Linked DNA regions of Homo sapiens: all the other regions are linked to region 2. Evidence: fine-mapped expression QTL. A gene starts in region 2. Each other region holds a variant in brackets. All regions are shown on one strand. Distances are between the middles of the regions.

The links. PIP is the estimated chance that this variant, and not a neighbour inherited with it, causes the effect. A credible set is the group of variants that fine-mapping cannot tell apart.
Region 1: its variant is the best candidate, but not a certain one, in a credible set for the expression of GRK3 in neutrophils (BLUEPRINT, PIP 0.52).
Region 3: its variant is the best candidate, but not a certain one, in a credible set for the expression of GRK3 in esophagus mucosa (GTEx, PIP 0.86).
Region 4: its variant is the best candidate, but not a certain one, in a credible set for the expression of GRK3 in fibroblasts (GTEx, PIP 0.69).
Region 5: its variant is the best candidate, but not a certain one, in a credible set for the expression of GRK3 in fibroblasts (GTEx, PIP 0.59).

What each region holds. Positions count from the first base shown.
Region 1 is chr22:25,609,431-25,614,535 of GRCh38, reverse strand. All of the region lies in intron 2 of GRK3 (G protein-coupled receptor kinase 3), which reads right to left. Among named protein-coding and RNA genes, the nearest start is that of GRK3-AS1, 47 kb to the right of the region's middle. The variant G/AG (reference allele first, on the strand shown) is at 2,705.
Region 2 is chr22:25,561,525-25,566,629 of GRCh38, reverse strand. It overlaps GRK3 (G protein-coupled receptor kinase 3), which reads right to left and starts at 1,955. Exons shown (of 21, transcript NM_005160.4): 1 at 1,477-1,955. The coding sequence starts at 1,589. GRK3-AS1 (GRK3 antisense RNA 1) reads left to right here and starts at 1,214. Exons shown (of 4, transcript NR_183564.1): 1 at 1,214-1,550; 2 at 2,271-2,540; 3 at 3,149-3,327. RefSeq lists an enhancer at 743-1,258 and silencers at 1,370-1,619, 1,930-2,029.
Region 3 is chr22:25,524,934-25,530,038 of GRCh38, reverse strand. No RefSeq gene overlaps it. Among named protein-coding and RNA genes, the nearest start is that of GRK3, 37 kb to the left of the region's middle. The variant T/C (reference allele first, on the strand shown) is at 2,796.
Region 4 is chr22:25,517,628-25,522,732 of GRCh38, reverse strand. No RefSeq gene overlaps it. Among named protein-coding and RNA genes, the nearest start is that of GRK3, 44 kb to the left of the region's middle. The variant A/G (reference allele first, on the strand shown) is at 2,581.
Region 5 is chr22:25,430,292-25,435,396 of GRCh38, reverse strand. No RefSeq gene overlaps it. Among named protein-coding and RNA genes, the nearest start is that of MIR6817, 23 kb to the left of the region's middle. RefSeq lists an enhancer at 3,922-4,422. The variant G/ATTTTTG (reference allele first, on the strand shown) is at 1,937.

The DNA.
Region 1 (5,105 bases), 48 kb before region 2:
TTAAACTAATAGTAAATCCAATTATGGACTAATAGTATTCCAATCACACACTCAGAAGAGCTCTGGGAAAATTAAGCAGTAAAAATTTAGCAGATAATAGATGGCCGAGCACAGTGGCTCACACCTATAATCCCGACACTTTGGGAGGCTGAGGTGGGTGGATCTCTTGAGCCCAGGAGTCCAAGATCAGCCTGGGCAACATGGCAAATCCTTATCTCTACAAAAAATACAAAAATTAGCCAGGCATGTTGGCGCATGCCTGTGCCTGTAGTCCTAGCTACTCGGGAGGCTGAGGCAGGAGGACTGCTTGAGCCCAGGAGGTTGAGGCTGCAGTGAGCTGAGAGTGTACCACTGCATTCCAGCCTGGGCCACAGAATGAGACCCGTCTCAAAAAATAAATAAATAACATTAAAAAAAAGATAATACATTTGCTAGCTGGCAAATCAGTGCTCCTATAGTTTCTAGTGATTAGTAGATATTAAAGGATTGTGCTTTTCCAGTAAAATGTAGCTTTTCTGAATTTTTTTTTGGGTGGGGCGATGATAATTATGGCTGGTCTTTGAACTTGAATGATAATTTTAAGAAGGAAAACCAGCCCTACTAAGCTGGGTTTAAAAAAAAAAAAAGAAGACAACCAAATTTTCCCATAGAACTGGTTTAGCCTTTTTCTCCTCTTTTTATCCTTTTTAACCCAAAATGCTCAGATGTCCCAAATGTTCAGAGCTGCAGAGGCTGCACTGCGGGGGCATGTGGCGGCTCCCAGCCCAGGCAGACTCCAGCACCAGGAGCTGATGCCCAGACTTGTTTAGTCCAACACAGGTGATGAAGTCAGCTGAAAAGAAGACGGACTTGCCAGTAGGTTTGTAAGAAACAGCTTTTCCTCTACCCTAGTGTCTTTCCTCTCTGGGCAGCATTTTTATTAGGAAACCCAAGTTGAAACTGTGCAGAGGCTGTGACCCTAAGTCCCCCAGGCTCCCGTTACTGCCTGAACCCGGCCACTGCACTGCCTCTTCAACAGAAAATCCAATTCGCTGTGCTTAGTCCACTGTTGGTCTCTGCTGTTTGAAAGTTTACGTGCCTCTTTAACTCTTTCCCTCAGGAAAAGTCTCCACAAAGGCATGGATAATGGATGCAGAATTGAATAGGGCCCCAGGTTTTTCTTCTCTGAGGCTGTGGTTGCTCTGGCTAGAGAACTCTTACAGATAAGGCAGGGTGGGAACTGACTGTGTCACTGTCAATCAGGGGATCTGTCAGGGGAGGCCCTTCACTGTGACAGAAACAAACACTTCCAAACAAAGGTAGGAACACAGAGGAAAACAAAGTTGAAGTTGGTTCCCAGGATAACAGTTCCCTCTCTACAACCTTATGCAAGACGGCTCTATTTGCTGTAATTTAACCTCAACTTTTGAATCCAAAGCTGCTGACTTATACATGTTTTCAGCTTTTAACCATCTATGTTATATTTTAGATATTAAACATGTCAAGCAATAATTTTACAAATGATGAAATCGAGTGGCAAGTTTATTCATTGAAACTGACAAAAAAGTGATCCTAAAATGTTTTAGTTTGTTTTTTAGTATTTTGGGGTTTTTTTTAATAATTACCAAATTTTTAAAATAAGCATCTGTGGTCTATCTACATCCATCTTTATTATTATAGAAACTGCTCAGATTTTTTTTTTTTTTAACTTTTAGAGGTAGTAGTTTCTGTTTTTATCAATGTATTCTTTTTATAATGAAACATACACTTTGCTTTCAAAGCCCACAGCAAGTACATTTCTTATGCCTTGGCCCTAAATGTCAAATATAATTTATGTATTATTTCTAGGTAAATGTTCTTTGATATCATGCTAAATATGTTTGAGACCAACTTAAAAAACATTTAAGAAATTAAAGTGAAAAGTAAAAACTGAAAGGAAATAAAAGACACCAGACTGGAAACAAAGAAGTAAAACTCTTTTTATTCAGATAGGATTCAATACATAAAAAATTCTAAGGAATACACACACACACACAAACACACACACACATGCAGACATACCTTACTAGAACTGATAAACTAATTCAGGAAGATCACTGGATACAAGATCACTACAAAAAAACTCATTCTATTTCCATGTACTTGCAATGAACAACCAAAATTAAAATAAATAAAACAATTCCATTCACAATAGCATCAAAAAGATTAAAATACTTGGGAACAAATTTAATGAGAAACACAAAATCGGATATCCACATGCAAAAAAGATAGATTTAGACCTTGCTTTACACCACAGACAAAAATATACTCAAATTCGACCACAGACCAAGATATAAGAGCTAAAACAATAAAACTACTAGAAGAAAAACAGAAGAAAACCTTTGCAAATTTGTTAGGCAAAAAGCTCTTAAATATGACACTAAAGGCCGGGCTTGGTGGCTCACACCTGTAATCCTAGCACTTTGGGAGGCCGAGGCGGGTGGATTGCCTGAGCTCAAGAGATCGTGACCAGCCTGGGCCATGTGGTGAAAACCCGTCTCTACTGAAATATAAAAAATTAGCTGGGTGTGGTGGTGTGCTCCTGTAATCCCAGCTACTCTGGAGGCTGAGACAGGAGAATCACTTGAACCTGGTAGGTGGAGGTTTCAGTGAGCCCAGATTGCACCACTGTACTCCAGCCTGAGTGACAGAGTGAGACTCCATCTCAAAAAAAAAAAAAAAAAAA[G/AG]ACACTAAACTATGAGTCATAAAAGAAAAAAATGTATAAATTGGACTTCAAAAATAAAACCTGTGCTTCAAAAGTCACCATTAGGAAAATGAAAGAGACTGGATTCCAGCCACCAACCAGAAGAAAACATTTGTAAATCATACATAAACAACAAATAACATAAAGACAATCCAAATTTCAGGATGGGTAAAAGATTTAAGTAGACATTTTACTAAAGAAGATATACAAATAACTAATTAGCACAAACATGTTTAATATCATTAACTACTGGAGAATCACAAATCAAGACCACAACAAGATACCACTTCCTATCCATTCAAATGGATACAAAAAAGACGGGTAACAACAAGTATTGGTGAGGATATAGTAAACCTGGAATGCTCATAAATTGATGGTGGGAATGTAAAACAGTACAGCCACTTTGAAAAGCAATTTGGTAATTTCTTAAAAAGTTAAACACAAATTTGCCATACAACCCAGCAATTCCACTCCTAGGTAAAGACTCAAGAGAAATGAAAACATATGTCCATAAAATACTTGTACACAAATGTTTATGGTAGCATTGCTCTATAAACAAGCAAAAAGTGGCAATAACTGCTCTATAAACAGGCAAAAAGTGGAAATAATCCAAATGCCCATCAACTGCTGAATGAAGTGAGTGTGCTCTGTAGGCCGGACACCGTGGCTCATGCCTGTAATCCCGGCACTTTGGGAGACTGAGGTGAGTAGATGGCTTGAGGTCAGGAGTTCGAGACCAGCCTGGGCAACATAGTGAGACCTTGTCTCTACTAAAAATACAAAAATTAGCTGGGTGTGGTGGCATGCACCTGTAATCCCAGCTACTCAGGAGGCTGAGGCACGAGAATCATTTGAACCCAGGAGGCGGAGGTTGCAGTGAACAGAGATCGAGCTACTGCACTCCAGCTTGGGTAGCACAGCAAGGCTCTATCTCAAAACAAAAAACAAAAAAAAAGTGTGCTCTGTCCATAATATGGAATGCTATTTAGCAACAAAAAGGAATGAAGTACAGATACACACAACGACATGGATTAACTTCAGAAACCTTATGCTAAGTTAAAGAAGCCAGATGCAAGAGACTACAGACTTTATACCGTATAATTCCATTTTTATGAAATGTCTAGAAAAGGCAGATAGAAACAGACAGATGAGTGTTTGTCTGGGGCTGAGGATGGGAGCAGAGTAACGACAAATGGGCAGGAGGGATCTTTTGGAGGCATGGAAATGTTTTTAAATTGTATTGTGGTGACGGGGGCACAACTGTAGAAATTTACCAAAATCATCACATAATACATTTACAATGGGTGAATGGTATATAGTAGTTTTGCATTTTGAGAGTTGTTTTTTGAGACAGAGTCTCGTTCTTTTGCCCAAGCTGGACAGCCGTGATGCGATCACGACTCACTAAGGCCTCGAAATCCAAGGCTTAAGAAACCCTCCCACCTCAGCCTCCTGAGTAGCTGGGACTACAGGTATGCAGCACCACATCCAGCTAATTTTATTCTTAAATTTCTATACAGATAGGGTCTCACTGTGTTGCCCAGGCTGGTCTCAAACGTCTGGCCTCAAGTGATCCTCCTGCCTCAGACTTCCAAAGTGTTGGGATTACAGGTATGAGCCACCACACCTGGACAAGTCATTTTTTAAAAAGTAAAAATTGCAGGGCTGGGTGAGGTGGCTCACGCCTGTAATCCCAGCACTTTGGGAGGCCGAGGTGGGTGGATCACAAGGTCAAGAGTTTGAGACTAGCCTGGCCAACATGGTGAAACCCTGTGTCTCCTTAAAAAAAAATACAAAAATTAGCCAGGCATGGTGGCGTGTGCCTGTAATCCCAGCTACTCGGGAGGCTGAGGCAGGAGATGTGATTGAACTGGGAAGGCAGAGATGGCAGTGAGCCAAAATCGCACCACTGCACCCCAGCCTGGGTGACAGAGCAAGACTCTGTCTCAAAAAAAAAAAAAAAAAAAAGTAAAAATTGCAAAGTTTTTGTGTCTATATATCAGACACCAAATTATTTCACACAAATTGAAAAAGATTACTATTCAAACTGGGGATTGAGTTCTGAAGCCAGTATTATAAAATGAAATGCCTTTAATGGCAGTATGTGATATAATATTATATTACCACGTTCTTTATACATGAGAATGACATTTACATACTTCATGTATTAAGTATCGATTTGGGGGCTGGGCACATTGGCTCAAGCCTGTAATCACAGCACTTTGGGAGGCCCAGGCGGGCAGATCACAAGGTCAGGAGCTTGAGACCAGCCTGGCCAACGTGGCAAAACCCCATCTCTACTAAAAATACAAAAATTAGCTGGGCATGGTGGCACATGACTGTAATCCCAGCTACTTGGGAGGCTGAGGCAAGAGCATTGCTT
Region 2 (5,105 bases):
TAGGGGTGTTAAACTCACGACATTGCAGAAAGGTTTGCACTTTTCCCTCATTTTCACTACTTGGCATTGTCTATCAAAGAGTAGCACATCCTGCAAAACCAACAAGAGGCATGGGCTAAGGAGGAAAAGCAAGCTCAAAATACCTAGCAAGCATGTCTTCATTTGCACAATTTAGCTTTTCACAACAAATAACAAGGGGACTGGTATTTTCTGTATCATAGGGCTCATGGATGACTTGTAAAAAAAATCAGATGATGATCACTTAGCATTAGGTAACATTTAAGCAATCTTGGGCGCCTAACGCTTGAAGGACTGATGATTTCAAATGGACAATAACTTTGGTTTAGATTCCAATATTTTACAGAATTGCATGGTTTCAAATTCACCATAAACAAGATGCCTCTTTTGAGCATCAATTCCAAGAGCTATTTAGCATCAAGGAATCACATTAGCTGTACAACTCATGATGGTGTTAATTAGGAAAGGAGCTAGAGAAAAAAAAATCCATCACTGAAGCCTTGATACGTTATTTAAAACTCACTATTAACCAGACAAACTATTTTTTCTGGGGAAGTGCTAATGATATGAACTAGAAAAAATTTTACTAGTACCTTAATAATAAATCATTTGAGAGAAAATTGCAACTTGGTATGCACCTCACCGAGCCCCTCGCCAATTCAATCGGGCCCTCCTTTGATAATTTAACAACAAATTCCTGTCTGGAATCACCCATTCAAGTGTCTTTTTAAGTGACTCCTGTTTCAATTTTTTAATAAAGTGCCACCAGTAGATCTACAAGTTGAGGAAAGCAGCTCAGGTGACACACTTGGCACCAAAAAGAATACTGAGTGGGTCAAAATCCTGCCCGGGGACAAAATAGAAGAGAAGCCGAAGAAGGTGACTAGACTTAATAGACTTCAAGAAGAGCAAGTACTGAAAACAGCAGTTTAACTACCTCGGACAATAAGCAACAAGCCTGCAGTCCCCAGGTAAGCGGCCCAGAGGGAGGTGAGAGGATGGAGTTGGAAAGGGGGACCAATGAGCCCGGGAAGAAGGAGCGACCAGGATGGAGCGCAAAGCAGTGACAGGCAAGGAGCCAACGGGGACTACACCAATGCAACAGGAAGAACCACGGGGATGGGACAGGGCAGGACAGGACAGGGCTGGGGGGAGGGGGCGACAGGGATGGAGCTGGTCCAGCCAAGTCATAACCAGACCCTGGCTGGGGCGCTCGCTGCGCGCAGGGCGCCGCGCCGGGCACTTTGGAGCGCTCTCTCCCGGGGTGCCCCCCACCGGCCCTCCGATGCCCCATTTCAGAGACTGGAACGACGAGGCCGGCCCCGCATCGCCCGCTCCGCTGTGTCACCCGCCCCGGGGCAGCGGAGGCTCAGCGCCCGACCCTCCAGGAAGCAGGGGGTAGCTGGCGGCCGCAGGGGGCGGCGGCTTGGGGCCGGCGCCGGCCGGGGCAGCTGGTACCTGGGCTCCGGCAGGACGATCCTCTTGCTGGCGCGGGCGGCCGGGGTCGCCTTGCTCTTCTCCATGGCCATCAGGTAACTGACATCGGCCAGCACAGCCTCCAGGTCCGCCATGTTGGCGAGCTTTGGCGGCGGCGGCGGCGGTTACTCCGGACCTGGACGGGACGCGCGCCCGCCGCCGCCGCCCGCCGCGCCCCGACCTGGGGGGGCCGCCCCGGGGCAGCCCCCCCCTCCGCGCGCCCCCGCCCCGCGCGCGCGCCGCGCGCCCCACTAGCGCTCTGCGCGCGCCGCAGGCTGTAGCCGGCCGGGGTCGCAGCACGCCTCCCCGCTCCGCCCCCTCGCGCGCCGCCCGGCGCCCCGCGCACGCGCGCCGCCCCCTGCTCCTTCAGCGAGGGTCTGCGGGGAGCGCGCGTCCAACGGTCAGCGCCCCTCAGTGCACAGTCCCAGCGGCCTCGCTGGGCCGGCGCCTCCCGACCAAGTCTCTACGGTCGCCCTCCCCTCGGGGTGGCCACGAGGGACTCCTCCTCCTCTTCCTCCTCCCCTCCCTCCCCCTCGGTCTCCGCCTCCTCCTTCTCCTCCTCCTTCACTGCCCCGACCTCCCGCCCCAGGTTCCACGCGCTCTGATGCCCGCCCCGCTCACCCAGAGAAGCCCTGGGCCAGACGTCCACAACCCAAGGGGTTATGGGGAGGCCTCTGCTCCCTGGACACAGTAGTTCTCAAACTGGACAGTGTCAATCAGCATCCTCCGGGAGGTCTGGGGTGGCCCCGGAAATACATGTGTCCCACCTATCCCAGCAGGTAATGATGAAACTCCTGCTCTGGTCCGGGCTACCGGTGAACAGCGCCCAGCGGGCCGGGCCCCCAACCTCGCTCCTGAGCCTGAACATCCCCCCAACCCCACCGTGAGAATTCAGCGAAGAGTAAAAGCTGGAAAAAGTTGCGTGTCTTAGGCTAAGCAGAACAAAGTGGGGTGACGGCTCCCCGGCTAGGAACAGAGATGCCCTTAGGGAGCCCTCTGATGGAAGAGCTCTCCGCTTAAGAAGGTCACCACTCCCTTACACTCAGGTGAGAGGTTTTAGTTTGGGTGTTGAAATGGTGTTGAGAAATAGAAGGAGAGAGAGTATTCCTGTCGTTAGGGTTTTACGGTCAATACAAGAGACAATTAGGGAGCATCTGCTGCGAGCACACTCGCACCACGAGGGTGATTTAGGGAAGTGGAAAAGCGAGATACAGCCCAAACACCGAAGCTGGGGGGAATTTCCAGCTTCCTGATCTTCGGTCTCGGTGTCTTTCATCATCACTCCACCCCGATGCCTGGGGTTTTCAGTTGCTTATTTTTCTACAGTGTGCACACAAGTCCGCATTCAGGATCCATGTGACACTCAGGCTGGAGTGGTGGTAAGGGACACGCAGGCAGTCTTAGGAAGACCTAAGCTGGAAATTAATGTTTTAAAATCCCTTTCATTCACCTGAATTGGTCACGTATTTCCATGAGCCTAGACGTTGCTAGAATTTGAGTGAACGTTCTGTCCATAACTTACAGGGTTAACGGGACCCACCAGATACAGTTAAGGTCAAATTTCAGATATTTCATGTAATGTCATTGCAGAAGCAGCCTGATTCTGTCATCAAATAGCCTGTTTCCCTCTTTTGTTTTCTCTCCCACGCCACAGCCCCCCTCAATCTGATTCCCTGCTATGCCTGCCATCACCACTGGCCAGTTTTACCACATGCTTCTCAAGACCCAAGGCACAATAGGCATAAAGTTGTCCTGAAAAGGACAAGAGGAGTGTCAGAAGTAGGAATGGCAGTTGAAGGAGCTTCGTCTGCCAGCAGAAAGCTGAAATGACAGGCAAGCACAAAATATATTAAGGAGACAAAGCTATGCATGAGCGAAATATCAAACTTTCATCTTCTACCCACTTTTTTTTTTTTTTTTTGCTTAAAAACAGGAAGACAGAATGTCTTGTCAAGGGTCACCCCAGGAGGAGGAGTAAATTCCCCAAAAAGCGGAACATATTTTTATGATTTAATTAATACAATTTCTCTCAATGTGTCTGTTTATCATTTGAGCATCCACATGATCAGACCTGACATCTGCCTACATTTTCTTGGTCGTCTTTGACTTCAGTTAAGAACCTTTTGCTCTTTGTTTTCCCCCAGCAGCACAGTATATTAAGTTTGGAACAAGACACACCTGAAATCAAATCCCTGCTCTGTGCTGGGTGATCTTAGAGGCAGTCTTTTACCTCTTTCTACTTTATTGTTCTCATAGGAAAAGTGGAAATGAGGCCTTTTACCCCAGGGTTGTTGAGAAGACAGAGGAGAAAAAGCACATAAAAATGCACCTTGTCGGGCGTGGGGCTCACACCTGTAATCCCAGCACTTTGGGAGGCTGAGGCAGGTGTATCGCTTGAGGCCAGGAGTTCAAGACCAGCCTGGCCAACAGGAAAAATACATTAAAAATAATGTCTCTATTAAAAATACAAAAATTAGCCAGGTATGGTGGTGCACGCCTGTAATCCCAGCTACTCAGGAGGCTGAGGCAGAAGAATCGCTTGAACCCAGGAAGCGAAAGCTGCAGTGAGTCGAGATCGCAGCACTGGGCAGGCACAGTGGCTCACACCTGTAATCCCAGTACTTTGGGAGGCTGAGGTGGGTGGATCACAAGGTCAGGAGATGGAGACCATCCTGGCTAACACGATGAAACTGTATCTCTACTAAAAATACAAAAACAAAATAAGCTGGGCGTGGTGGCGGGCGCCTGTAGTCCCAGCTACCTGGGAGGCTGAGGCAGGAGAATGGCAGGAACCCGGGAGGCAGAGCTTGCCGTCAGCCAAGATTGCACTGCTGCACTCCAGCCTGGGCAAGAGAGCAAGACCCTGTCTCAAAAAAAAAAAAAAAAAAAAAAAAAGCATTTTGCCTGGCACCCAGTAGATCCTCAATAAAGGTCATGGCACTTCCTCTATTTATTTTGCTTCATTTTACCCTGGCATGCTAGAGAAGATACTGAAACTAGTTGTTCACAGTCATTACACTTGAAGCAGGAAGACCCCTTACCAAAAATAACATCTCCCTAGGGCATTTCTAGGAACCAAAATGGCAAAAACATTTGCATCTATAAACATGAGCAATTACTCTTTTGGCAGAAAGACCAAGGAGTCCAAAATTTGGTCCTCTAACTGAGGCCCCTACACCATTTGAGTCAGCTGACTCAATTACCCAGGGGTATTTTTTTCTGGTGTTCATAGTGTATGAATTTCTGTTCCCTGGCTGTCTCTTTGGTTGTCTCACTTTCTCCACCCCCTCTTCTTTCCCTTTTTCTTGACTCTCTTGATACTGAACAGCTTTTTGTGTTCACTGCAAACAAAAGGGGTTAATGACAGTGATGATGAAGTTGTCATAACTGACCTGCTGGATCCTGTTACTAAACACCATCCCCAGCCTGTAATCATCACAAAGAACAGAAAAAACAAATAGCAACCCATTTGTACTTAGCTAATAATGCTCCCTTGCAAATAATTATGTCTCCCACCCCCAGAGGATTTAAATGACTTGGGGCTCACGCTGCTTGTGATAATAGACAAAACTCCAGCGTTCCCACAAGATTAATAATGTTCCCTTTTCTTC
Region 3 (5,105 bases), 37 kb after region 2:
GGTAAAGCTCAAGTTTCACTTAATGAGGTAATGATTTGTCCTCTTTCTTGTGGGAGTGGCTGCAAAGATGAGAGGATCGCACAAGAGCCCAAGAGCATTCCTTGTGTATTTCTAGAACACAGTAGATAACCATATGGAAATATTACTCAGCAGCTGAACTACTCTCTGGGAAGATCCTTGGGTTGGGATTGGGAACAGGCTAGAGGGACAGAGGCCCTCCTTTTTTTTTTTTTTAAACTGATGCCGTTGTTTTATTTCTTTGCATGTTGCAGCACGCAGAACATTAATAGAGGATGAGAGTGCAGTGACTAAGGAGACGCTAGAAGGTTCAGGGAGAAAAGCAAAAGGAAAAGGAAAGGCAAAAGAGGTGTCATCACAGAAGTCCTATGGGGATGGGTGATGAGGAATCTTATTAAGTTTTGCTTTTTCATATGTCATGTAAATTCTCTCCCCAGTGTTTCCATAACACTTTGAGTAAAACACCCATTTCTCATTAACATAGTGTGTAGTTAGACTTAATTTGTTTGTTTTTAAAGATTGATCCCAAGTGCTGAGTCCATTTTAAGGTGTTCTCACAATGAGAGCAGATCTCCCCATTAGAACCTACTTGTATTTAAATGACAAGCATAATGCTTGATGTACCAACTAGAATGCTTTTAGTTGAAAGAAACAGAACCCCAGCTTAAAATAATGTGAACAGTGAAAGGAATTTATTGATTCATGTAAATAAAAATGGGTCAACACTAGTTTCAGGAATGGCTTGATCAGGGTGCTGACTCCATTGCTCTGCAGTTCTGTTGATTTTGCCTTCCTGAACATGATGGTTTACTTTTCAGACTCACTTTTATCATGGTGACAAAATGTCTGGAACAGTTCCGTACACCACATCTTCCTGAAGAAAAGTGTCTTTATCTCAATTACCAAACAAAATCCTAGGTTTCACTCTAACTGAGCAAACCAGTCACATGCCCATCTCTGAATCAATCACCATGGCCGACGGAAGTGCCGTGCTCTGATTGGCTTAGGATGAGATTTGTGCCTATCTCTGAAACAATCCTATGCAAGAGTAGGATTTTCTGATTGGGTTTAGTCAATTGGAGGGGGGTTTACCTCTGGAACTGTGAATGGAATCACTGTCCCCTAAATTATTATACATGACTGCCATGCATTGGGAGTAGAGTCAGTACTCTCAAAATCACATGACCCCATGCCTTTGCAGAGCAGATGAATGGATGCCGCTAAAAAAGCCATCAATGTCTTTCTGAATGGGAATTTTCCTTTGGGATGTAAAAAGTGCCTTTTCATTCTGGCCTTTGATTCTCCAACACAAAATTAAACCACTCTGCTACTTCTCCAGTGTGCATGGATGTGTCCACACTTTTCTTTGCTTGATATATTTTATCAGTTGCTCCAAACATTAGCAAAAAGCTGTTCATGGACTTGAACATTATTTAGAAACAAGCAACCCTGGTGTTGAACATGCCTTTGACAATATACAGTTGTCTACCTTGAATCTTTCGCTCCTTTCATTAGACTGAATAGCACAATGGTTAGGAATTGGAACTCTGGAATTGGACTGCCTGATTTCAGAATCTGGTTCTGCCACACACTGGCTGTGGACCTTGAATAATTTACTTAACCTTTCTGGGGCTTGGCTTTTTTATCTGCAAAATGGGGATAATGTGGGCACAAACCTCATAGAGCTGCTATGAGAACCAAATGCTATGATGAATATACAATGTTGGCTCAGTGCCCGGTAAATAGTGAATGCTCCAGAAATATGACGATGATGATGATGATGATGATGACAAGTAATTGGCCTTAGCTCTTGCTTTGTCCTTACCAGCTAAATAGAGTCTGACACCATAAATGTAACATTTTCTATAGCTCCAATAACAAAATCTAAGCATTACAGATTCTACACATTTGCTTCTTGTTAAGAATTTATAGATTCACAATCACCTAAGTCGAAAGGAGACTAAAATCTGAAGTTGGCATTCAAACAACACTGCTATTGGAAAAATAAATTTAAAAAAGGAAAACTAGGGCTGAATAGTTGAATAGTTAATTGTAGTACTTGAGCTATTAACATATTAATAATGAATTACTAATAATAATGATTAACAGTTTTGATATTTAGATATTAAAGAGTTCCTTCCAGAAGAGTTGTATCAGTCCTGTTTCACAAACAGGCAGCATCATCTGTAGCAGGGTACAGAAAGCAGTCACCAAGCACGAAGACACTAGAGTCATTTATATGATCAAGAAAGGGCTTTGGCTGAGCGCAGTGACTCATGCCTGTAATCCTAGCACTTTGGGAGGCTGAGGTGGGCGGATCATGAGGTCAGGAGTTCAAGACCAGCCTGACCAACATGGTGAAACCCGACTCTACTAAAAATACAAAACTTAGCCGGGTGTGGTGGCGGGTGCCTGTAATCCCAGCTACTCAGGAGGCTGAGGCAGGAGAATTGCTTGAACCTGGGAGGCAGAGGTTGCAGTGAGCCGAGGTTGCACCACTGCACTCCAGCCTGGGTGACAGAGCAAGACTCCATCAAAAAAAAAAAAACAAATAAGAAAAAAGAAAAGAAAGGATTTTAGTTTTTAGGGAAGCAATGCCCTTCTCTCCCTATCCTTTCCAACAGAAATTCAATTTTAAAAATCCTGACCCACTGGGATTTTATTCCCCCTTTCTCTACTCACCAAAGTAGTAGCTCATTAAATCCACATTCCAAAGCCTGCTGTAGTCAGAAGGCCCTTTCTGCATCCAGCTCAGCCTTTGTTATATCACATGGCTT[T/C]ATGTGTCATAGTCATTATAAAAACAACTGATTTAAGAAGACACACGAGTTTTGGAAAATCTCCAGAGGATGCAGAGGTACAGAGCAGTGGTTCTCAAGCTTTGGGAGCTGCTAGAATCTTCTGGGCAGGCAAGTGGGAGAAGGAAGGACTGGTTCAAAATGCAGATTCCTGGCCCCAGCCCCAGAGACCCTAACTTGAAATGTCCAGGGTGGGGCCTGAGAGTCTGTACTTTTGTGCCAGCTTCTTGGACAACACTGAAGCAGATGTGGTGTGGATCATTCAAGAACCCTATCTGGAAGCTCAGAGGATCAGACCCTTCCACCTGAAGACAAACCCAACAGCCACTCAGTGTATTTATTTTATGGGGGTATATCACAGGGCATGTATTATGGACCGAATGTTTCTGTCTCCCTAAAATTCATGTTAAAGCTGTAACCCCCAATGTGATGTTTTTGGAAATGGGAACATTTGGGAAGTAATTAGGTTTAGATGAAGTCATGGGGGCCAGGTTCCCATGATGGGATCCGTGTTCTTCTAAGAAGATGAAGAGACCAGGGCAATGTGCACTCTCTCTCTCTCTCTCTTTCTCTCTCTCTCTCTCTCTCTTCCTATCCCTCTCTCTCTCTCAGTCTCTCTCTCTCTGCCATAGGACACAGTAAGAAGGTGGACACCTGCAAGACAGGAAGAGAGCCCTCACTGGGGAACTGAGTCTGCTGGCACCTTGACCTTGGACTTCCCAGCCTCCAGATCTGTGAGAAATAAGTTTCTGTTATTTGAGCCTCCCAGTCTATGGTATTTTGTGATGGCAGCCCGAGCTGACTAAGACAGTGTGTGAGCATGTGAGTGTGGGGGTGTGATACAAGATGAACCAAAGCCAGCTAAAACCTGTCACAGGCTGAGACAACCCATCAGCCAAAACTCCAGGTTCAGGCTACATAACATTGTCAGAGATCATCAAGTGCTGGTTTTAAGTAAAATATTTTCTCTAAAACTCATGAATTTAAAAACTCATGAATATGTTACTGTGTTGGAATTGTTTACATGCTTTGCATTTTATAAAGGAAAGCTTCACTCAATCAATATAGTCAGGCTCTGACTCTGGTAATAAAGGTTTTAATTTCTCATGTGTTTGAAGCCTCCCCTATGAACTTTATTAAATTAATCAGGAAAAAAGGGAGGAGGAGAAATGAAAATGAAACAAGCTTGTAGCACATTCAGCATTAATCATTAAGTCAGCCCGCTCTCTGACCTGCTTCCTCATATTTGTGTGGTGCCTATTGTCCTACAATCACGTAGACTCTGTTACAAGATTATAGCTCCCCTTAACTGCTCTATAGATAAAAAACTGAACACTACAAAACAGTAAGTTTTCTTTTTGAGATAGTCCTTCAGGTCCTGCATACTAATAAGACTATAACACTAGCCAATCTGAAGGACCCAATGAGAATCTGACTGCCGAAGAATGCAGTTTTCACATCCTGATGATTTCAGCCCCCTTTCCCTGATCAATCAACAGCCCCAATTCTGAAGTCCCTCACCCTCCATGATCCCCTTAAAAAACCCAGCCCATAACTCCTTGGGGAGACGGATTTGAGGGTCTCCTCCCATCTCCTCACTCAGTGCCCTATGATCATGGATCTTTTTCTCTGTTGCAAACCTTGCTGTCTCAGTGTAATTGGTCTGTTACTGCACAGTGGACATACAAACCTGTTGGTTCTATAACATGATTGTCCTCCTAGGGATGATCAGCAGAACTGTATTTGCCTGAAAGTGTTCTTAGCTGTAGATGCTGGAGGCATCTGAGTACCCCCACTTGTAAAAGAGCAATACATAAGCCTTAGCTTCATGTTCTGCTTTCTGGGAAATGCAGGCTAATGCACATGGACATATAAACTCCATAGGGGCAGAGACTTTTGTCTGTTTTGTTCACTGTTGCATCTTCAGCACTTACTGGCACATAGTAGGAGCTTAACCAATTTGCTAAATGAAAAGTAAATATGCCAGGCTCTGTGCTAATGTCATTTCATTTTCACAACAACCCTGTGACATACGTACTCTGATTATCTGTATTTTATAGGTGAGGAAAGAGTCTCAGAGGGGTCAAGCAACTTGCTCAAGGTCACTCAGCAAGAAAGTGATAGAGCTGGGATAGGAACACAGGAGATATGAGCCACGTTCAAAACGGAAGTTGTACATTCATGCCACTCATCAGCTAATTAAACTGGTAACAGTTAATCAAACTGTTACCTTCTCATTTTAGAGCTCTCCCACCTTCCTTTTTCCTTTTTAATTGTAAAAAAAAACCACAT
Region 4 (5,105 bases), 44 kb after region 2:
ACAAGTCTTTGTAAATGACATAGGAAGAAATAGAGGCCAAGAGAGGTGAAGTCATAGTTAACAGTCACTGGCAAGGCTGGGACAGGGACGCCAGCCAGAGTTTTGGGCCATTGACTTGTGGACCTCATAGTCATGTGAATAAGATAGAAGATAAAACCATTAATGTTTTCCTGAGCCGAAGCAAGATATTAGCTCATTCCCTGGACGCAGCCCACAGTCTGGCATAGAGTAGGTGCTCAATAAATACTTGCAGATCAATAAAGGAATAGACATGAAAGCATAAAGACATTGAAACCAAAACATTTTTAGCTGCTTTTTAAAGGTAATTTAAAATAACCTTTTTGTTTTAGAATAGTCTTAGATTTACTGAAAAATTGCAAAGGTAGTGCAGAGTGCTCCAACAAACCACACACCCAGTTTCCCCTATTGTTAACATCTTACATTCAGATGATACACTATTTACAATTAATGAACTAATATTCATACATCATTATTGCTATAGTTTGGATGTCCCCTCCAAAACTAATGTTGAAATTTCATTGCCATTGTGATGGTATTAAGAGGTGGGACCACTTAAGAGGTGATTTGATCATGAGGACTTTGTCTTCATAAATGGATTAATGCTGTCATGGGGGAGGTAGGTTAGCTATTGCAGGAGTGGGCTCCTGACAAAAGGATGAGTTCAGCCTGATTTCCTTTTTCTCACATGCTCGCTTACTCTTCCACCTTTTGCCATGGGATGACACAGCACAAAGGTCCTTGCCAGATACTGGTGCCATGCTCTTGGACTTTCCAGCCTGCAGAATCATGAGCAAATACATTTCTTTTCTTTATAAATTACCCAGTCTGTGGTATTGTGTTATAGCAACACAAAATGGACTAAAACAGTTGTTAACTACAGTCTGTACTTTTCAGATTTCTTTAGTTTTTACCTAATGTCCTTTTTCTGGTCCATGGTTTCATTCAGGATACCATATTACACTCATTACTTAGGCAATTGTTAAACTTCCCCTGAGTCCCATATTGCTCCTCTTGTTCGCTATTGCCCTACTTCAATCCAGCTTCCACATTGGAGCCAGCAAGATATTTAAAATACAAGAACCTGATCATTTACCCCACCCTTTGCTTCAAGAAGTCCCCCATGACTTTGAAGAAAGAGTTGCAATTTGTTAAATGAGTACTCAAGGCATTTTATAGCCTTTAAGGACCTGAATCTTCCACTCTGTCTTTACTGTGTTGTAAGATGCTGTCAATTGCAAGTTGTGACAAACCCACTTCGAATGGCCTTAAACAATAAAGAGTATTGGCTTATGTGATAGTTAATTGTATGTGTCAGTTTTACTGGGCTAAGGGATACACAGATAGCTGGTAAAACATTATTTCTGGTGTGTCTGTGAGGGTGTTGCTGGAAGAGATCAGCATTTGAATCAGTCGACTGAGTAAAGAAGATCCACCTTCAATTATGCAGGTGGACACCATCCAATCCATTGAGGGCCTGAATAGACGAAAAAGTCAGAGAAAGGGAGAATTTTCTCTCTGCTTGAGCTGGGACATCTGTCTTCTTCTGCCCTCGAACATCAGTGATTCTGGCTCTCAAGCCTTTGTACTCAAAGTGGGACTTACACCATTGGCACCCCTGGTTTTGGGGCCTTCAACTTCAGATTGTCGAACTACACCACCCGCTTTCCTGGGCCTCCAGCTTGCAGACAGCAGAGCATGGGACATCTCAGTCTCCATAGTCACATGAGCCAATCGCTCATAATAAATCTCTTTCTATATAACTCTCTATAAAGAAATATATGTATTTCTGCTTGTTTCTGTTTCTTTGGAGAACCCTGAGTAATACAGCTTATATAAATGAAAAGTCAAACAGGAATGTGGGCTTCAGGCATAGTTTAATCCAGAGGTTTACTCTATCAGCAGGGCTCAGCTCCCTTTCCCTTCTCCAGTCTGCCTTTCTATGTCCATTGATTTTATCCTTCCTAGAACAGATTCTTACCTGGCAGCAACATAGCCCCAGAGTTCCATGACTCATATCCACACTCCAACACCTAGAAGAAAAAAGAACAAGCTTTTTAGACAGTAAAGAGCTCTGAGATTCACTCTGACTGGACTAGCTGAGATCTCATGCCTATGATTGGCCATACCAGTTGGTTCAGGGATTATCACAAGTATTACCAGCATAGCCTTTATTGCGTTGAACTACAATTCTGGTTTTCTCATTGGTGTCTCCAATAGATGGTGTTATGTTATTCTCCTTTATATCCCCACTGCCTAGGACATAGTCATACTCAAGAAATGTGAATTGGATTTTCAAAGCACAGGGTTAGTTGTCCTCTTATCAAACTCTTGTGCTAGCTTAATCCGGGCCTCAGCAGTCTGTGGGCATAAAAGGTGCCCCATTAATAGTTGTAAATGCATAAATAAATACCAACTTGACTGCCTCTTGGCTCCATAGGACCTCAGCTCTTATAACTTCTCCACAGCCGGGTATTCAAGCCCATCTCAGGGGCTATCTCAGACATGATTAGTATGTTCCCTGTGGAACAGGTGGGTACCACTGTCCTTACCAAGTACCAC[A/G]TCTTTGCTGGGTGCTGCAGTGTATATCTTTGGGTCTCCATGGAGATCATGGGAGAGTTGCGGGTGTAGGGGGGGTCATACACCTTCTCCCTCCTTCTTGTAGTTGATGGGTCGTGCAGCATTGGGCTCAGGCTCCAGTGTGTTGCAGAGGTCTGCGTGGAGCCCATTGTCTGTTCTTCTTTGCTGCCCTCACTCCCCCGGGGCCCCAGACATGAGCCTGTGGACTGGGCCTAAGTAAGAGACCAGAGATGGTCATCTCACTCCATTCAGAATCTCTTCTGCTCTCTGGCCCTGAGATGTGGGATTGGAGCCAAGCCTGTCCTGCTAGATTTCTATTCCTCTGTCCTTTGCACTCAGAGATTCCTGGCTGCACACAGAGACTGCCTCACTGACAATCAGACCTTCCTGGAAGTATCTGGACCTCTGCAGTGGCCACAGCTTAGGCCTCACCCATGAGGAGTACGCTAGCAAGGATGCCTCAGGGTGTCTAGTACCTTCCAGGTGCAGCAGAGAATGCTGGCCACTGTGCCTTGATTTTTCTGGGCCTTCTGTTGAAATGGGGCAATATTTCCAACCTCTCAGGGTTCTCTAGGGGGTTAAATGGGATAAAGGACTTGAAAATCCACAGATGATACCTCTTATTTTTCAGGCTGATTTAGGCCCAGCACACTAGACACCCACAGTGCTTATAAATACCTCCCTGGGTATTATCAAACACTTCTAATTACCAAACACACCTGCTTTTCCCAGAAGACGTAGGCTCCTAAAAACAATGGGTATATATGTATGATTTGTATTTGTATATTTAGTCCCCAAACTAAGTTTAGTACAGTACAGACAAAATCAATCAACCAAGCAAGCAAGCAAAGCTGAGATTTATTGTGCACATACTATGCACCAGATTTTACACCAAGCACTTTTTTTTTTGAGATGGAGTTTTGCTCTTGTTCCCTAGGCTGGAGTGCAGTGGCACAATCTCAGCTCACTGCAACCTCCACCTCCCAGGTTCAAGCAATTCTCCTGCCTCAGCCTCCTGAGTAGCTGGGATTACAGGGGCCTGCCACCATGCCCAGCTAATTTTTTGTATTTTTAGTAAAGACGGGGTTTCACCATGTTGGCCAGGCTGGTCTGGAACTCCTGACCTCAGGTGATCCACCCACCTGGGCCTCCCAAAGTCCTGGGATTACAGGCATGAGCCACCATGCCAGGCCTACATCAAGTACTTTCTATTCACCATGTCATTGAACCTTTACAGCAGTCTCACAAAGTAAGGACTAACTTTCTTTCTATATAAGCAAACAGAGGCCTGGTGGGTGGTGTAGGGCAGCAATTTATCCAAGGTCACTCAGCAAGTAGGTAGCAGAGCTGGGATTTGAATCTGGGTCTCTCTGAGTATTAAGCATACATTTATATCCCATGTAAACATGCTTCCTAAAGACTATCTTTCTTCAAATCCATAGGTTGTGGATTCAAAAATAGACCATCTATCATTGAATCCACAACCTGTGAACACAGTTCTTCTCAGTACATAGAACATGCCAAATGAATGCTTGATTGATTAAATGAAGCAATATAAAAGAACGATAGCTAGCTAGCAAGATAAAGATAGAGACAGATGGATACATAGAGACAGATAGATAGATGGATAGAAAGATGATAGATATAGACAGGACGGATATGTAGGTAGGTAGGTAGGTAAATAGATGATAGATAGATAGATAGATAGATAGATAGATAGATAGATAGATAGATACACAGATAGATAGATTAATAGATCGATCTACTGATATGCTAGGCGAGAAAGCAAAGGATTCTTTACAGATGGTCTTTCTTCTAAGACCTAGCATCTGATCTTCAAAGCGTCTCCCATAACATCATCTGAATGCCCCTGGAACAGAAAGGTCATGTAGGATCAACATCAAGGTGAGGTCTCCATGGTTTGTTTGCCAACAACACCGGATGTGGCTTTTCCATCTTTCCCAGGACAGTTTGTATTACAGAACAAGGGAACCTTATCCAACCTCCGGGTCTAGAGCCTGAAGGACATTAGAATGTAGAAGCTTCATTCCATGATGACAAGTAATCCAGGTAGGGAGGCGTATGCACAAGGCTAGAAAATGAGACAAACTCGGCCAGGCGCGGTGGCTCACGCTTGTAATCCCAGCACTTTGGGAGGCCGAGGTGGGTGGATCACGAGTTCAGGAGATCGAGACCATGCTGGATAACATGGTGAAACCCCGTCTCTATTAAAAATACAAAAAATTAGCCAGGCGTGGCGGCGGGCACCTGTAGTCCCAGCCTCCCAGCCACTCGGGAGGCTGAGGCGGGAGAATGGCGTGAACCCGGGAGGCAGAGCTTGCCATGAGCCGAGATCGCGCCACTGCACTCCAGCCTGGGCGACAGAGCGAGACTTCATCTCAAAAAAAAAAAAAAAGAAAGAAAAAAGAAAAAAAAGAAAATGAGACAATCTGATTGTCAACATTGCACAGGCATGTAGGAGTTCTTCCATGTGACCCATTTCTATG
Region 5 (5,105 bases), 130 kb after region 2:
TCCCAAGTAGCTGGGACTACAGGCGCCCACCACCACGCCTGGCTAATTGTTTGTATTTTCAGTCGTTGAAGTTCAAGTGAACAAGATGTATGACAAGTGACTACTCATCTGTCAGAGTGGCAGGGCCACTGAGGATGTGACAGTCATTCATCCACTCTGAAACAACTCTTCAGGATCCCTAACATAGAAACGAACATCTGGCCTTTACATGCTTTGATAAACCGATCTATTCCTGTTAAAACAGAGGCTTCATTCATCTCCAAAGCTTGTAGAGAAACCTCAGACTGGGGCCAGAGACCCTGCGGGTGCTGTGGTTTCAGGGCCTGGAGGTGACACCTCCCAATCACACAGACATTGCAGGCTCAGAGGGAGGAGCCCCTTTGAAAGAGGTGAGCAGAGTCTGGGGCATTTGTGCAAATGTTGATGAGGTCCCCAGACAACTCACAGCCTCCCAGGAAACCCTAACTGGGGAAGAAAAGATGAGGATAAGCAGAGCCCACCATGGGTGAGAAGAGAGGAAAGCCAGGGTCTCCACCACCCAGGTCCTCAGTGTCCCTCCTCCGTGTGCCCGGCCCTGTCCTGTGGGTGGAGGGTGAGGAGAGGGAGAGAAGGAAGGGTTGGCAGTTTTATAAGAGCTGGACCTCCTCCTATGAGTAGATGAAATAGTTTAATGAGATTGGTTTTGGATTTTCCAGCTTCCCTAGAGGCCGGAATCAGACTCCCAATATAAGCTCTTGGTCGCTGTGGTGAAAGTTCGTGTGTATTCATCCCCTGAGAAGGTTCCCTAACCCTTACTGTGTCTTCTGTGTGAGGAGTGCAGCTCTAAGCACTCAGGGTACTGTTTCCCAGTGAATCTTAATGAAATGTTTGGAGAATTTTTATTTCCTCCATTTAGCCTAACCAGAACAGAAACGTCAGCTCTAGAGGTAGAACAGGTCACTCAGAGTCACCCGAGCAATCACTGCTGCATGAGCTGCTGACTTGAGGTCTAAGTGATGGGAAAGTTCACCTTTCTACCTAGTTGCCTCTGAAAATGTATCCTAAAATGAAATAAACACGTTGTTTATAGCTAATCTTTCTAGGTGTCTTCATAAATCAATGAACAGACACACATTTTCCATGTGCAGATGGTGTGGAAAGTTCTGGTGTGGAAAGTTCTAGTGTGTTCCGGTTAAATCTGGGGGTCAGACCAACTCAGGAGGCTGCCCCTGAGGAGATAGGAAAGGTCCCCTGTCCCTTAATGAAGTGGCCTTGGCCAGACTTCCAACCATGGTGAGGGAGGAAGGGGGACATCCATAGCTCCTTCTCCTCCACTCTCAGGAAACCCTAACCCAGGAAATAATTCTAAAGAGATCTAGGGAGGAGGAACTGAGAGGACAAGTTGCCTCAGACAGGAAGACCCTAGGAGTGTCCATGGGGGATGTTCATAACTGAGAAGCATCATTGCTGGCCAGGGGACTGGAAAACACATCATCTTACATCCCTGCATTCCCGCTCCAAATGTTTGAAATCCCAGGAACCCACAGCCTGTCCTCTCACTCGAGCTCTCAGGGGCACTCCTGCTCTGTAGGAAATAGAAACTGTCCCTTCATTATCCCATTACGTCATTTTTGCTGCACAGAGTCTTGCACAGTGGGTCCTAGTCATTTTCCCTGTTTACCTTCATCTCCTTTCTGTCTCTTCTGAGAGTCTGATTCCATCTAGCACCTCTTCTCTTTCCTGTGAGGCCAGTTCTCCCCAGGTCCAACCTCAGGGTTGCAGTTCAAAGGTTGTCCCCTTCCCCTTCCCCTTCCGACAGAGTCTTGCATCCAGGCTGGTGTGTGGTGACACGATCACAGCTCACTGTAGCCTTGATCTACTGGACTCAAGAACCCTCCCACCTCAGCTTCGCAAGTAGTTGTGACCACAGGTACATGGCACCCACCTGTTTATTTTT[G/ATTTTTG]TTTGTGCAAAGGGGTCTCATTTTGTCGCCCAGGCTGGTTTAAACTCCTGGCCTCATGCCATCTTCCCACCGTGACCTCCCCACTCTACATTTTCTTCTGAGCACTGGTCTCACAGCCTCCTACAAGTTTGGTGTGCTTTGTTTCCATTTTCATTTATCTCAAAGAATTTTCGAACATCACTTGTAATTTCTGCTTTGATTCATTGATTGTTTAGGAGTGTGTTTAATCTTTACATATTCCTGAATTCAGATTTCCTTTCTTATTTCTACCTTTTTCTCTCGCAGAAAAGATATTTTGATTTTAGTGCTTTTAAATTAATGAGATTTGTTTCATGGTCTAATACAAGGTATATTCCAGAGAACACTCCATGTGTGCTGGAGAAGAATCTGTATTCTGTGAGTCTGTTGTAGATGTTGTCAGGTCTAGCTGATTTATAGTTTTTCAAGTTCTCTACTTCTTTATTGATCTTCTGTCTCATTGTTCTAGCCAGTATTGACAGTATAGTATTGCAACTATTATTGCGAAGCTGTCTGTTTCTCTCTTCAATTCCATCAGTCATTACTTCCTATACTTGGGGGCTCTGTGGTTAGACGCACATGTACTAATTGTTACATCTTCTTGATGAAGTAACTTATTTATCAATATATAATGTCCTTCTTTGTCTCTTGTAATAACTTTCATTGACAGACCCATCTCTCTTTTCCTTCATTCCTTGCCTCCTTCCCTCTTTCCTTCCTCCCTCCTTCCATCCCTCCCTCATTTAAACTGTTGGCAGGACACAGTGGCTTACATCTATAATTCCAGAATTTGGGAGGCCAAGGCAGGTGAAGTGTGTGAACCCAGAAGTTTGAGACCAGCCTGGGCAACATGGTGAAACCCAGTCTCTACAACACAACACAACAAAACAAAACCTAAAATTAGCCGGTCACCTATAGGTGCAGCTATGCGGCCACTCAGGAAGCTAAGGCCAGGGCATCTATTGAGCCCTGGAGGTCAAGGCTGCAGTGAGCCATGATCACACTACTGCACTCCAGCCTGGGTGACAGAAGGAGACCCTGTCTCAAAAAAAAAAAAAAGAAAAAAGAAAGAGAAGTACATAAATACACAGATAAACTGTTGGTTGGGAGCCGTGTATGCGCCAGGCACTAAGCTGGGGATGAGATGGGATGAAGAGTCTGGAGACTTGGGAAAAGGCTGCATCTCTGGGAGGCCACAGCTTTTCCTTAGTCAAAGAGGGTCCTGGAAGGGGTAGGTAAGATCCCTTGAAGCCAGGTCCTCCAGAGCTCCAGGACCCAAGGTGGAGCTCAGGGTGTGGGAAGGCAGCCAGGGGGCAGCATCAGGCCTGGTGGGGGGCTGGGGCTGGGAGCAGGTGGGATGTAGGGAGAGGGCTGTTCCACCCTCACCTGTGAGCTGCATGAACACCCAGTGCAGCCCTGAAATACGCTCCCCCTCTCCCTGGCCACATCTGTCTTGTTTTTCTCCTGTCCCACATCCCACGCGGCAGCCTTGGCTTCTCCTTGCCTTAGTTTTTTCCCTTGTCACCCTGAGTTCTGGTTTAGGTCAGTGTTAAGATTAACCTTAGCCTGGGGATTCCCAAGGTCAGCCAGCTGCAGGCAGGGCCACCAGAGCTGGGAAGGTGAATCCCCCACCCCCATCCCTTGGCCTGGCCCCCACCCTACTCTCACCTCAGACCACGCTGCCCCTCCAGGCCTCCCTGGCCAACTCCTTCACCCAGGAAGCTACTGGTTTCCTGAATGGCTGGTCCTCAGGGTCCCTGACCCAGCTTTTCCTTGACCAGAGCAAAGGCTGGGCCCAGGGAGGGAAAGGCACTTGCCCAGGATCACACAGTGTGTCACCCACAGGCCCAGGCAAGAACCCAGGAGATAACAGCAATGGCTGTGGGTAGGTGAGGGTCCCCGTGGGCCTGGCACTCCCTAGGCATTCTCATTTAATCCCCAAAACCAACCTGTGGGGAGAGACTGTTATCACCCCCCTGTACAGAGGAGGAAACTGAAGCCCATTGAAGGGAGTCAAACTGCCTGAGGTCAAGGGCTGCTGAGGGCTGAGCTTGGGCGGGACCCCTTTTCTGTCTGACCCCGTGGCTGGGGCTCCCACAGCAGAGGCTCCACTTGGAAGAACACGCTCTGGGCTCCTGCAGGCCTTTGCCAGCTGCCCTCCCTCCTCCTAGCCGTTCAGGGGAGGGGTGGCCATCGGACTCTGTAGCCCTGACTCGGCCTTACTCTGCTCTGAGGCCTCTTTTCTGCATCCCCGAAATGGGGTCAGAGCTGGGGAATGGTAAAGGGAGGTCACCCCACCTGAGCATATCTCGTGCCTGGCAGAGGGCAGTGCTCCATACAGGCGCCCTCCATACAAGTGTGTTCCATACAGGTGTGCTCCCATGTGAGCTTGGGCAGGCCCCTTCCTCTCCTGATCTCGATTTCCCCATTTGTCAGATGGGAGGCCCTGGGCTGAAAGTCAGGACACCCCTGAGCTGGCTCTGCCTCACTCTTTGGGATTTAACTGCTCCGGGCCTCAGTTATCCTACCTATGAAATGGGACCGTGATTCTGGCTGTGGGCCCCACAGAATCCCTGAGTGGCTCAGCCGGATAACACGTGTCCCATATTTTATAAATGGTACAGGGACAGTAAGGCCACTCAATAGCGTTTCAACACAGGACGCAACTGTCTTTAGCAGATCTGGCCAGATCTGAGGCATTCAGGGCCTTTATTCTCGGCCTTGCTCCCTCTGGGCCCTGTTCCTGCCCCTCTGCAGAGCTCTGGGGCTTAGGACATGTTAGCCTGCTGGCCCAGCCCAGCGTGCGTGTTCACAGCCCTGGTCTACCATCCACCCCAGAGAACTCTTGTGCACCCTGCAGGGCCCTGCCCTGGACCTGCCTACCCGCATCCTCTGCTCATTCAGTCTTCTTTACCAGGTGGCCACTGTCTGTGTCCCATTCAGGGCCCAGACCCCCTCCCTCCCTTGTCCCCTGCCCGCCATGAAGGCCTGGCCCAGTGCAGGGCCCAGCCATGCGGCAGAATGGAAGGAATTTTTGGGTGGTGAGCAGGGTGGCAGAGCACGTGGTATGGCAGACAGGTTCTAGGGTCTCTGAGATGATCCCTCAGCGTGCTTTTATGGGGGCCCATGTGCACCTGCCATATCCCTGTTG